Homo sapiens: one gene and its partner. The protein of the gene in region 1 interacts with the protein of each later gene in a pairwise test. Each region holds a gene or a part of one and is shown on either strand. Other genes may lie near its edges.

Region 1 (7,025 bases):
CCTAGGAGGGCGGGGGCGGCGTGCACACCGCCCCACGGTGCCGATACCTGACAAAGTCGCCGTACTCCATCCAGAAGACACCCTCACTGCTGCCGTGCGGCATGAGCTCGCCACGCAGGTGCCCCGGCCAGTGTGGCCACTCGTCGGACCAGCTGCCGTTCCAGGAGAAACGGCCCCACGGGTTTCGGAGCCGCAGAAGCCTGCAGACCACAGGGGTGAGGATCTGAACCACACTGCCCGAGTCTCACCGGCACCCCACCCACCCTCAGCCAGGCCGGCCCTACCTGGTGCCCTGGACATCTCGGACATCCAGGATGGAGTAGGCATGCCGGGGGCGCAGGCCCAGGCTCTCGTAGGCCGAATCGTCCACCTTCATGTTGCCCCCGCCACAGGAGGCACCCATGAGGAACCTGTGTGGCAGAGCGGCCCTCACCGACCGGGACCCTCACCGACAGGGGACCCTCACCGACCGGGGACCCTCACTGACCGGGACCCTCACCGACTGGGGACCCTCACCGACCGGGGCCCTCACCGACCGGGACCCTCACCGACGGGGCGCCCTCACCGACCGGGGCCCTCACCAACAGGGGCCCTCACCGACCGGGGACCCTCACCGACCGGGGCCCTCACCGACCGGGGACCTCACCGACCGGGGACCCTCACCGACCGGGGCCCTCACCGACCGGGGCCCTCACCGACAGGGGACCCTCACCGACCGGGACCCTCACCAACAGGGGACCCTCACCGACCGGGGCCCTCACAGACAGGGGACCCTCACCGAAAGGGGACCCTCACTGACCGGGACCCTCACCGACCAGGGACCTCACCGACAGGGGACCCTCACCGACCGGGACCCTCACCGACCGGGGCCATCACCGACGGGGCACCCTCACCGACCGGGGCCCTCACCGACCGGGACCCTCACCGACCGGGACCCTCACCGGCAGGGGACCCTCACCGACCGGGACCCTCACCGACGGGGACCCTCACCGACAGGGGACCCTCACCGACCGGGACCCTCACCGACTGGGGGCCCTCACCGACCGGGGACCCTCACCGACAGGGAACCCTCACTGACAGGGGGTCTCACTAACCAGGGGCATGGCTGAGTGGGGCCCTCACCGACTGGGGGCATGGCTGAGCGGGGCCCTCACTGACCGGGGCCTTGCTGACCAGTGCCCTCGCTGGCCGCGACCTTGCCACCAAGACAGGCAGGCGCAGCAGAGAAGGGCCCACTCCTGCCTGTAGGGACCACGTGAAGTGTTCAGGAGGGTCTGGACCAGCCCCCTCCACCATGCCTGAAGCGCACAGGGCCTGAGTCAGGGGTGGCAGGCCTGGGTCCCCTGGAGGCCTTGTGGGGCTGGCTCTGGGCTCTGTGGCTCCCGGGCGGGTGGGGGGTGGGCAGCAGCACTGCCCAGGGTCAGCTGAGAGGAGGGCTCCGGGAGCTTCAAGGTGCTCGCACCGGGGCACTCCGAGGAGGCCCCTGGGGGTCGAGGCACAGACCCGCTGACCAGAGTGTGGCCAAACTCGACACGCCGCTCACGCCTGCCCCGAGGCGGATGACGGCATCAGTCTCGCCCCACGGCCCAGGTCAAACTCGACACGCCGCTCACACCTGCTCCGGGGTGACGGCATCGGTCTCGCCCCACGGCCTGGCCAGGATGTGGCCTTCCTGGCATGAGAAGGCCAGCTCCAGCCCCGCCCAGGGAGGGGGAGGTGATTGGGGCTGTGGCCTGGCCACGCGGGGTCAGCCCACGCCAGGGGCACCTCGTGGAAGCAGAACTGGGTCAGGGGCCACCAGCCCCACATCTCCCACCGCTCCGCCTCGCCTCTCCTCCCAACGCGGCTGACCACGCAGTGCCCCTCCTCTTACCCAGCCTCCTTAGAACTCAGCATTTTGGCCCAGATGAGGTCAGTGTCAACGGGCTCCTCGCGGGGGTTAGTGGAGCTGAGCTGCAGCGCCAGGCTCTCACAGGGGGCGCCGGTGAGCGTGGCCAGGCCTTCGATGGCGCGGCCCGCCTGGAGCGCAAAGTAGGAGCCGTGCAGCTTGGCCAGCGCCTTCTCGATGAGGGCCACCCACAGCTGCTTCCGCTGCGCCTGCAGAGGGCCGGGTCAGAGGCCACCCCCGCCCGCCCCCCACACTACCCGCCCTGGGAGAAGAGGAAGCAGCCGGCCTTGTTTTCGGGGCTGGGGTCAGAGGCTGCCCCTGCCGCCCGTGCCCACCCTGCAGGCCGCCCCACCTGTGAGAAGAGGAGGCAGCCGGCCTCATCACAGGGCAGCATGTCGTCCACCAGCACCGTGGTCCACGTGCCGTCCTTGCACAGCCGCACCTGGTAGGCGCCCTCTGCACACAGGCTGCGCGTGACCATCACCCGCTCCACCAGGTCCGGCCGCTCCGCCAGCACCGCCAGGGCGCTCAGGAACCTGCGCAGAGCCTCAGGGTGACCTCGCGGGGACCGCGGCCGGTCGCCCGCCCACCCGCCCCACCCCGGCCTTGGAGAAGGCCTCACCAGCAGTTCCCCAGCAGCCCCTGCAGGATGTCTGAGGGCCGCAGTGTGTGGAACACAGACCACGTGGCCCTGTGGTCCCTGAAGACGGAGCAGTTGATCTCCTGGGGTCGCAGCCACTGCCTCACACGCTGCTGCACGCTGTCACCCGCGGGGAAGCCGACAGACTCGGGCCCGGGAGGGAAGCTGTCATCCACGAAGCTCACATTGTTCTGCAGAGACCACGGCCATGTGCTCAGGCTGGGCAGGGTGGCCTCGCTCCACCTGGCAGGGACAAGACCCCACCCAGGAGAGCGCCCAAAAGCACTGCCTGAGCCCCAAAGGGACGGGTGGAGCGTGGACAGCCACAGACCTGGCGCCGGCCCTGTGTCGAGGAAGCCCTCAGCCCTAGTGGAGAGGCCACCGGCTGGCGACAGGTGAGGAGCAGGGGACGTGTGGGCCCAGGGGGACAGCGCAGCCCCCAGTGGGTGGCAGCACGACTCTGGCCCTGGCCCTGCTGGGGAGGGTGCAGGCTGCGCCCCAGTTGACCCGTGGGTGATGCCATCCTGGACTCTAGAGGGCGGAGCACGGGTACATCCCGACCTCGCACTTCAGCGGGGTCTCCACGCTGCCCCTGGGAAGCCCTCGCCTCCTGCGGCACATCAGACGGGGCTCGGGGCCCTCCTGGCCACGGTGGAGGGTTGAGGGGGGTGAAGGTCGTGCATCTCGGTCACCAGCAAGGACCAAGGGTCAGGAGGCCAAGCTGGACCCCAGGGCCATTGGGAGCTTGGAGCCTCGGGGCGGAGGGTGCTGCCCTCCCCATCACGTCTTAGGCCTTGTGGGCTCCTCCCCAGCCCATCGCCAGAGCCCAAAGCCTAGGAAGGGGAGGGCGGGAGCAGGAGGCTCAGGAGCAGGAAGAGGGCGAGGGGGCGCCTCACCTCCCGGCAGAAGGCCACGATGTTCTCCCAGAGTGCCTTGGCCTCGCCCTCGTCTGTCTGCCGCCGCTGCTCCACGTGCATGCTCTCCCTGCGCCTCAGGGGCGCGGCCCCCCGCCGCTGGGCCACCAGGAGCTGAGGCGTGTGGCAGGCGGCGCAGTGCTTGGCCCGCAGTGCGTTGAGCAGGGTACAGGCAGGGCAGGCCCACTGGCCCGGGCGCTCGGGCAGGACGCGGGCGGCCTTCTGGGCCGAGGACACCCGTCCGCAGCTTCTGCCGCAGGGGCTGGGCTTGTCGGCCCCACAGTCGGGGCAGTGGGTGGGGGGCTCGCCATGCTCCTGGAAGCCGTGCAGTTTGGAGCAGCCGCAGGCCGAGCACCTGGGGGCCACTGTGGGGTTTCTGAGCGTGCACTTGGCACATGACCAGGTGGTGAAGTCGGGGCTGGAGGGGCTGGCGGGCGTGTAACGCACGGTGTCTCCGGCCAGGTCAATGATGTCACTGCCCGAGGTGGAGCTGCCGGCCTCTACGCGGCTGGTGCCACCCTCCGTGGCCTCTTCCTCCAGCACACTCAGCCGCTTGCCAGACAGCAACTCTGCTAGGCGGGAGGCCCCAGCCCAGCCCGAGCCCTGGGGGGCTCCCCTGCAGCCGGCAGAGGGTGACGGCTGGGCAGCCTCAGGCACCGGTGGCTGCAGCTGGGGGGGAACCTCGCGTCGGCTGCGCGGCACGGGGTTGTTCTGCAGGGTGGACGAGAAGGGGCTGAAGGGCGGGACCCTGGGCGGCTCTGGTTCGGCAGCTGGGCCCTGGCTGGTGGCTGGGGGGTTGGCCTCGGCACCTTCCCCGGGGAGGCCAGGTGGAGGCGCGGCAGGCACGACGTGGAAGCCGGCCGGGGCCACCACTTCCGGGACCACCAGGGCCTCAGGAGGGATCCGTGGCAGCGAGAGCCTGCGTGGGCCCCCGCAGACGGAGCAGGAGCTGGCCACGGGCGTGTTGTGCAGCGTGCAACGCGGACACGCCCAGCCCCCTCTGGGCTCCGCCGCTCCCTCCTCCTCCTCCTGCTCCTCCTTCTCCTCCTCGTCCTTGTCCTCGCACTGCCCCCTGGCGGGCTCCGTGGCCACCAGCCCCGCAGTCCTCACTGGACCTGCTTCCTCCTGGCAGCTGCCCTTGGGCTCCCCCAGGATGGCGGGTGGCTTGGGGAGGACCCCGTTGAGGACTGGCAGGAAGGCAGCCCCAGGCGCAGGCTCCGGGGTGAAGCCGCACACCTCGCAGGCCTCCTTGCCCAGGAAGTTGCGGAAGGTGCAGCGGGCGCAGGGCCATTTCTGCTCCTCCACGCTGAGCCGCAGGATGTGGTTGAGGTCGGGCTTGTGCCGGGGAGCCTCGCAGATGGAGCACTGGCGCTGGCCGGCCGGGTTCAGGAAGGTGCAGCGCACACAGGACCACTCTCCGACCGTGGCCATAGACCCGGGCGAGTGGGTGTGGCTGCAAGGGAAGGTGCTCATCAGGGCCACCCTGTGAGGTCCTGAGTGGCTGGACCCCACCCTCCTCTCGGCCTGGGGAAGGCACCCGTCTGTGGCTGCAGAGCTACGGGGCCGAGGGCCTAGGGCTGAGCATTTGAGGCAGGCGGCGGTGGGGGCTGCCTCCACCCAGAATGGATCCATGGCTCAGGGCCCCTCTTGCCCGTTGGAGGCTCAGCAGACCCCTTGAGCCACACAGGATCCTACAGAGAGGGCTGAGCACCCCACAGCCGGGCTGCTGTTCCAGGGCACTGCTTTCTCTGTCACCAGGCCTGTGGACGGCAGATAGCAGGGGGTCCCGGCCAAACTCAGGACCAGGTCGTCCTGGGCGTGGAAGAACAGGTGCTCAGACCTACGGAAGGGCAGGTGCATGGGCCGGGGCCTGGGGAAGGCACAGGCTGATCTGAGCAAGGGGCCTCCCCACACCACAGCACAGCCTCCGAGACAGACTGGCTGCTCTGCCTGGCAGAAAAATCAATTGTTCTTGTAAATATGGCCTGAATCTTGTGCTCCATCTAAACCCTTTTGGTTCAGGAAGAAAGAAAACCTGCCTCTTCATAAGAAGCACAAAAACAAAAAGTCTCCGCGAGCAACACGGGTGTTCTGTGGAGCCGAGCGAACTCCGTGATGCTGCCTTCCCTGCGCTCAGCCCCGCGTGGCGAGGGCTCTGAGCTGCCCCTGGCAGAGTGGACGGGGGTGGACTGGGCCCGGCGAGGCTCAGGGCGTCCAGCTGGAGCAGAGAGACCCAAGGCCGGGAATCTGCTCTAACAGCGGGCTTCTGTGAAAGCCCAAGCAATCTGCCCGTAGACAGCCAGGCCTCTCCCCGCCATCACCACTCGGAGAAGGGCATGGATGCAGCTGTGGCCGGCGGGCTCCCGGCCGCACCTGCACGTTCCTCGGCCTGGCTGCCGAGGCGGCACAGCCCAGGCGTCCGGCCTGGGCCCCTGTGGGTGGCACAGTGGCCATGATCTTTGCAGCCCCCACTCCGGGAGGTGCCTTCACAGACTCTGCACCCCGCTGACCGCAGGTGCAGGCAGAGGTGGGCTGGGCCTCCTGGGACACACCCTCCCTTTGGCCCTGTAGTTGTCACCGACTAGCAAGGACAGCCTCACCAGCTCCAGAGAGGAGAATGAGAACCCGGGTCCCCAGGACCAAACAATCGCCAGCGGGGTGTGTCTGCTGGGAGACACCTTTCGGAGTCATCCTGGCAAAACCCAGGTGGGTCAGGAAGACGTCTGCACTTCAGGAGGGTTTCAATGAAGTCAGAACAAGGCCTAAAGTTCAAACGTGGCCCCGGGACACGGGTGAGGAGGGCGAAGGCAGGCCACGGCCCTTCTGTGGCTGGAGACGCTGAGGGGAGTGTCACTGACCCCGCAGTCTGCGCTGTGCCGGCCTCTCTCGGTGGGCCGAGGTGGAAGGGGGCCAGGGGTCAGGGGTCAGCGGTGGGAGACCTCGGCAGGGCCCCCACCCTCCCTGCCCTTCTGCCCTGGTTCTGGTCTCCACAACCCCCCAGCCACTCTAGGGCCACCCTCACCTCTGCAGGGCCTGGGCAGGTTCATGGGCTCAGAGACCCGAAACCCTTACAAAGATGTTGTTTTGAACTTTAGAGATGGGGTCTGATTGCCCAGGATGGTGCAGTGGCTCGCGCACGGCTCACTGCAGCCTTGACCTCCTGAGGCCAGACCGCCAAAGCCTGGAAGTAAAAGCTCGCGTCAGGAGCCCAAAGACCCAAAGCCAGGCCTGAGCGAAGCCCTTTTGGAATTCTCAACCCAGAACGCTCCTGAAGTCGCAGCCACACGTGCTCAGCAAGGAGCCCTCACTACTGCAGGATGGTTACCTTCGAAGGGAGCGGGCTCAGGGCAGACGACGTGAGGGGAGACGACGACGTGGGGGGAGACGACGACGTGAGGGGAGGCGACGTGGGGGAGGCGACGTGGGGGAGGCGACGTGGGGGAGGCGACGTGGGGGAGGCGACGTGGGGGAGACGACGACGTGGGGGAGACGACGTGGGGGAGGCGACGTGGGGGAGGCGACGACGTGGGGGAGGCGACGTGGGGGAGGCGACGTGGGGGAGGCGACGTGGGGGAGGCGACGG
Region 2 (7,025 bases), on another chromosome or scaffold:
TTTCAACTGTTCATAAATTTATATTTTATGAAAGACCAATCACTTCACATAGATCTTAATTTCATAATGCAGAGAGATATTGTTTCATATGTCTATACCCAAGTTACTTGAAATGATGCTTTAGACAGAGAAAATACTCAAACATTTGTTGATCTGAGTCTATGAAATTATCAAATCATAGCAAGTCTCTTATGATTCCTAACTGGCTAAGTAATTGCTATTCTTTCTTTTGCTCTCATACAACCAATTTCCTAGCAAATATTAACAATAACAATCCTTACCTTTTGGTGGAAAATAGGACTTGCTTTCTGCTTTATGAGGCCAATCTACTACCAAAGGCCCAAATCTTCTGAAGCTAGCAGTTATTTCATCTTAAGAAAGTACAATAATACACATTAGAAATTAGTTTCAGTGATTCGTTCTAAGAAATTCTGTACTGTTACTATGAAGATTTAACATTTAAAAGTGCCAAATACCTTAAGATAAATTAGAATATAAACACTGGGAATATGTCTAATATACTTATTAAAATAATATGTCAAGATTAACAATTTTTGTCAAAATAAATTCACTTTTAAGCAATGCATTGGTTAGAATACTCAATTCCATGTGAATTTTAAAATTTTATATAACATTGTATGGATACTAATGACTTTATAGTACACCAAACCACAAATAGCACTGGATTGAAAAAAATGCCAACATATATAAATAAAATCTATTACTGCTTCACAAATAAAATCATTTTATTATAGGAAAAAAGGTCTGCTAAAACAAGACTTGAATAACTACAATGTTGAAAAAATATACAAGGGTCTGATACATGCCTGGTAGTTTCACTGAAATCCACATAGGTTACATCCAATTGCTATGTCTTACGTTATTTCATTACATAGAAAGCTTATGAAGATCAATACTTAGAATTAAGTTTGTGGATATCTGAATCATAACTAAAAAATTTCCTAAAATGTAAGAATGAGTGATACATTTCCCATAACCTCACAAATATAGCTTAATATTTTAAGTCTTCAATTAATTTTCTTTTGTTATCACATACAATTACTAGTGTTTGTGAAACCCTAATTTCCTATTCATGTTCTGTTTCCATTTCCCTTTCGGGTTTAATAGCCTCTTTCTTCCCTGTTTCTAAGAGCACATTTATCCTTAAAGAAATTAAACTTTTGGCCGGGTATGGTGGCTCATGCCTGTAATCCCAGCACTTTGGGAGGCTAAAGTGGGCGGATCATGAGGTCAGGAGATCAAAACCATTCTGGCTAACACAGTGAAACCCCGTCTCACCTAAAAATACAACAAATTAGCGGGGCATGGTGGCGGGCGCCTGTAGTCCCAGCTACTCAGGAGGCTGAGGCAGGAGAATCGCTTGAACCCGGGAAGTGGAGTTTGCAGCGAGCCGAGATTGCGCCACTGCACTCCAGCCTGGAAGACAGAGCGAGACTCCACCTCAAAAAAAAAAATAAATAAATAAATAAAAATAAAAATAAACTTTTGATTACCAAGCATTGCAGATATTATCTTATGGTTGGTTCCATTTATTTCAGTGTATGTGTGCATGCACACATTATGGTGATACAAAAAGCTTTAAGTTTTATATACCTAAATATATTCTATATTTTAAAAACAAGTAGAATATGACCTAGGTCATGAAAATCTTATTTACAAAAAATGCTCACAGTTACAAATATGATAAGATCTAAAGTGAAAAATAAAAAAGCTTTTGTTCAACTACTTTCATATTTCAACAGGTGATAAAGTATTTTAAAAGAAGAAAATGCATTCTAATTCTGAAAATCTCTAGGTGGTAAAAACTTTCATAGTCCATTCACATTAAATTTCATATCTTTTTGTTTTTGTTAAAGCCCAAATCACCATGTTAATAAATATCTTAATAAATACCTTCATCAATATCTGGAGGAAGACCACCAACAAAAACTTTTCGAGAGAAGCGTTCTATTCGCTCTCCATTTTGGTGAGCTGAATAACAGGTGGGTGAATTTAAAACTCCAACTTGATCACTGTGACCATCATCAAGCAAGCCATCATCTATTGGAAAGAGGGAAGAACGACCTAGAATAAAGAACAAATACAACTTGAATCTCAGATCTGAGAAAATGATAAATTTAAGCATAAAAATACCAATGACAAATTCAAAGACTTAAAAATGAAGGTGATGCAGGTGAACATAAAAATTAAGAGAAATTTAAATAGCATGTGGTTTTAATTACCTGGATTCAAGAAAGAAGCAATCTAAAGAGTGACTTAGAAATAAACATAGTCATATGTCAACAATTAAACTGCAAAAGAGATACTAGATCACTTCAACTTGTTATGAGCAAGAACTTGTTATAAGCAAGAACCTAATGTATGTGGACAGTTAGAATGGATATATAACAGGAGAAACTTTTCAGAAACTGGTGGCAGAAAGGAAATGACACAGACTAAATAGATAAGGGGATATAATTTATAAAAAATCACTTGTAGACTACAGTAAGTAAGGATGAGGAGAACAAGTAATACTTGTATACAAGGTCTTCACCTAATTTATTACACGTGTGCCAATTACATGAAACAGTAGACGGAGCTTCCGCACATGTGCAAAATAGAAAAGGTACCCCCTCTAGCACGTTAGTGCCCATTTGAGCCCACATTTCAGGAGGTAATCCTTATATAGGGCACATCCTGCACAATCCTCTGAAGTAATCCCCACTCTGTGGGTAATCCCTCCACAAAACTTAAATGCCCTGATATACTCCCTGGCTGTCAAGGAATGTACATTTAGAAAGATAAGATCTATATATGTAACCATGGTACACATCCATAAGAAAGCTTCAAAGTGCTCAGAGGACATATTCTGGAGGAAAGGAGTCAAATAAAAGGATGATTTCCTAAATCTCTAAGTGAAATTAAATAGCATTTGGGATAAAAAGAGAAAAATAGCAGTACATAGTGAGGCATTAGAAAGAGGAGAATATCTATAGGTGGAAATATTTACAGGAACATGGTTTTCAGTAAATTTTCCTTTTTTTCCAAGTGAAAGGAGAAACATAAGAAAATGTAGGAAAAATTGAACTTACTTGAGAAATAAGGAATAGTCAAGGTTGGCTGAAATATGTTGGAAACAAGGAGAGTAAAAGCCAGAAAAGCCCTTTGAGGCTAGAGTATTTAGCATTGAATGACAGGCTAACGAGACATTTAGTAGGTGGTGAAGATAATAAACTAGATACAGGGATTCAATCAAGATTATAACTTTTTCTATGCATTAGGGAGACTTAGTCAATATGGATAAGGTAGTTGAAAATGAGCAGATCAGAAGCTGTGCAAAAAATCCACAAAGGATGGATGGCAGTCACAAGCAGATAGGAAACAAAATAGGGAGAAAGAATGAAAAAGGAGAGATCTAAGGAAGACTTTAGAAAATGATAAAACCATTAACTGATATAAGGACAGTTAAGACCAGAAACTGGTATAAGAAAGGAAAATAATTTAAGCTTTAGATGTAAAGTTTTATATGCTGTTAGGATGTTCAGAAGCAAATGTATAGTAGGAAGCTGAAAAGGAAGTGGAGAAAAGAAATGTCATATTTCTGAGAAAATAATTTGGAGTCAACTCCATGGGTTATAGTTTAAGGTCCTTTATAACATCAATGATAAACACTCCAGCGAGAAATGATGAGGACAGTTCCTTGGGAAACTTACAAGGAAGAAGCAGAACATTCAAGGAGTTAGAGAAAGGAGTGGTAAGAAAAGTGGGAGGGCAGCCAAAATATCATGGTAATAGAAGCACCAAAAAACCAATAAAAGAACGAAAGAGCAATTAAGTAACAATGTGAGATATTAAGATAATTACTTTTAATAAACAGTTGTTTTTGAGGACATACATGATCTGTGAAGGTAGCTGTTTCAGGAAAGTTGGGTAGGAGTCACATTGCATGTATTTAGAGTTTTATTACGTATAGAGATCAAATGAAGAGAAGTATGTTAGAGAAGGAAAAACAGTAAGAATATGGACAAGTTGTTTTTCTTTCAGTATTAACTGAAGGATTTTTTTGGATAGGAGACAATGCATATAATCTATAGCAGCGATCCCCAACCTTTTCGGCACCAGGGACCAGTTTTGTGGACAACAATTTTTCCACAGCAGGGGGATGATTTTGGGATGAAAATGTTCCACCTCAGATCATCAGGCATTAGATTCTCATAAGGAGCACACAACCTAGATCCTTCACACATGCAGTTCACAATAGGGTTCACGCTCCTGTGAGAATCTAATGCTACTGCTGATCTGACAGGAGGTGGAGCTCAGGCAGGCAGCAATGCTCACTTGCCCTCCACTCACCTCCTGCTGTGTGGCCTGGTTCCTAACAGACCATGGACCAGTATCGGTTTTATGTTGGGTATCTGTCTATATATTAAACAAACAGGCCACGGACCGGACCGTTTTATGTTGGGTATTTGTTTATATATTAAATCACATGCCATAGAACATCTTGAACAATATGACACATGATGCAAGTGATACAAACAAAGACAATTAGAAATGTGACAGCCTGAACAGAATGGGTTGGGGACAAGAAGGAAGGGACCACATGCCTGTCAGAGTGAGGGAGCTAGCTACCTAGATGTTTGACATAAAAATTTAGTTTATAAGACACAACAACAGAGAGAAAGATGATATTTGATATAGGAAATGAATTATTCTAAAGATTCAAATGCTGTTTAAATATGATGTTCTGAAAAATACCCATGTTCACTGAGTAACTTTGTGAATATTGCTTAACTTTTCAAATACCGCTGTTATTAGAAACAGGAAGCAATGTAAAACAAAATGTCAGTATTTTTTGTCATCAATAGAAAGGAAACTCTTCAACATGAAACTATTTTTACTCAATAAAATGAACATCAAGGTCCACTAAAAATAATATTAATTGTGAATAACTGGTCAAACTTTTAAAGGTTAGACTTTAATTGAATAATTCTCTACTTTAAAAGGAATAAGATAAACAGCATACATACAAACGATTTTAAGGAAAAAAATCACAAATCCAAATTCTATATTTATTTCAGATGTACAATACTTTGGAAAGTTTTTCACTTTAAAATGCCCTAACACAAATAAAAACTTAGCAGTGTCATAAATACAGTAAGTATTCAAATGTCTTTCTAACAGACATTTAAGTTGAGAAAAAATATGGATCACAAATACTTAGGGTCTATATTAAAAAAAAAAGAATGCGGTGACAAATCACACTATAAGCAATGCCAAAGAGAAAAGTGACCCAAAAGTGACTCAAACTTTTTGTTTACTATAATAAAATATTACTTAGTATTCATATAACTAAAAACATCTATAATCTATTAACGAAGTTCAGCTAAACAAAGAATGTAACGAAAAGTTTAAGAACATTTTGCACACTAGCCATACTAACAAGAATCTTCACTGTTGGACAATAATGACTGCTTTTTTTCAAGAAGCCATAAAAGCTACAGATTTAAATACTCATTTAAAAGAAGAGTTAACTGAATATATATCATTGACAAAGTCTGACCTTTTACCTTGCCAATTATCCTTTTATCATATTCCAAATTAATATGACAATAAAAGGAGAACCATTAAATAAGTTATATCTACCACTGTAGTATACTTTAAACATGCTTTCTAAGAAGGATACCATACGTATGTTTTCAGGTTCTTACACCTCAAAGGAATAAAACTGAATGATAATGAAACACAACAAATTCATTTTGCTGGAATGCAGCAAAAGCCAGGCTCAAAGGAAAATTCATAGTTTTAAAAGCATATTAGAAAACAAGACATGCTTAAAACAAATCATCTTGTTTCTACCACAAAAAGCTAGAAAAAGAACAGCAAATAAAATACAAAGAAAGTACGATGAAGGAAATAAAGTAACAAAAAAGAGACATCAATCAACACAGAACTTACAAACATTAAAAGATTAAAAAGAATGTTATTAGCCACTTTATGGTAATAAATTTAACAACTAGAGGAAACAAATCCCTTGAAAAATGCAGCTTTTCAAAAATGGCACAGGGAGAAAAAATCTGAAAAGTTCTTTGTCTGCTAAAAAAAAATGAAAGTCATAACTTAAAATAAAAAAATCTTCCGACAGAGAAAAATCCAGGCCTAGATGGCTTTACTGGCAAATGAACTAGACTTTTGAAGAAGAAAAAATGGCAATTTTATACAAACTCTTCCAGAGAATAAAGAAAGAGGAAGCACTTCACAACTTTTTTTTACAAGTGCAATACTAAAATCTGACAAAAACATAAGGAAACTATATACCAATATCCCTCATGAACACAAATGCAAAAATCCTAAAAAATATATTGGCAGAATGAATCCAGAAGTATAGATAAAAATGGAAAACAAATCATGATTAAGTGGGGTTCACCCCAGGAACGTAAGATTGATTTATCATTTTAAAACCAATTACTGTTAATTGTACTACATAAACAGACAAAAATAGAAATACCATAAAATTATTTCCATAAATGTAGGAAATGCATCTGATAAAACTCAACAGCTATTCATAATTAAAAAAAAAAAAACCACAACTCCCAGAAAACTAGGAGTAGGAGGGAATTTCTTCAATCCAATAAAGAGCATTTAAAAAAAAAAGAGTGAAAGTCTGTAATAATAAATTATCAAATGGTTTCTCTTGAAGGTTTGGAAGGATGTTCACTCTATTTCTACTCAGCATTGTACTACTGGAGGTACAACAAATCAAAGAAGATGAAAAAAATAATTTAAAGTCATGAACACTGGCAAAGAAAAATAAAATTACTTAGTATAGACATAATTGTACATGTAAAATTCGAAGAAATCAAACTAGTAGAAATAATTGTATTTATCTAGGGAAGAAATGCAAATTCAATTTACAAAAACCAAATTATTTCTAAATGCTAGTAATAAACTGGGAAAAATTTTAAATATCATTTCCATACCTCATCCAAACCCACCAAATACTGACAAATAAACTTAACACAAGA

What was found. Proteins that work in one complex are often made in the same cells at the same time.
Region 2: the proteins of CAPN15 (region 1) and CPEB2 interact in a two-hybrid assay, tested with the Homo sapiens proteins (one study listed by BioGRID).

Annotation. Positions count from the first base shown.
Region 1 is NC_000016.10:544,687-551,711, reverse strand, and holds part of CAPN15 (calpain-15), read right to left. Parts: exon of another isoform or gene 5,075-7,025; coding exon of another isoform or gene 4,874-5,074; coding exon 3,425-4,873; intron 2,720-3,424; coding exon 2,511-2,719; intron 2,425-2,510; coding exon 2,241-2,424; intron 2,098-2,240; coding exon 1,874-2,097; intron 411-1,873; coding exon 285-410; intron 201-284; coding exon 48-200; intron 1-47.
Region 2 is NC_000004.12:15,047,474-15,054,498, reverse strand, and holds part of CPEB2 (cytoplasmic polyadenylation element-binding protein 2), read right to left. Parts: intron 2,086-7,025; coding exon 1,915-2,085; intron 372-1,914; coding exon 282-371; intron 1-281. UniProt on the Homo sapiens protein: May play a role in translational regulation of stored mRNAs in transcriptionally inactive haploid spermatids. Binds to poly(U) RNA oligomers. Required for cell cycle progression, specifically for the transition from metaphase to anaphase.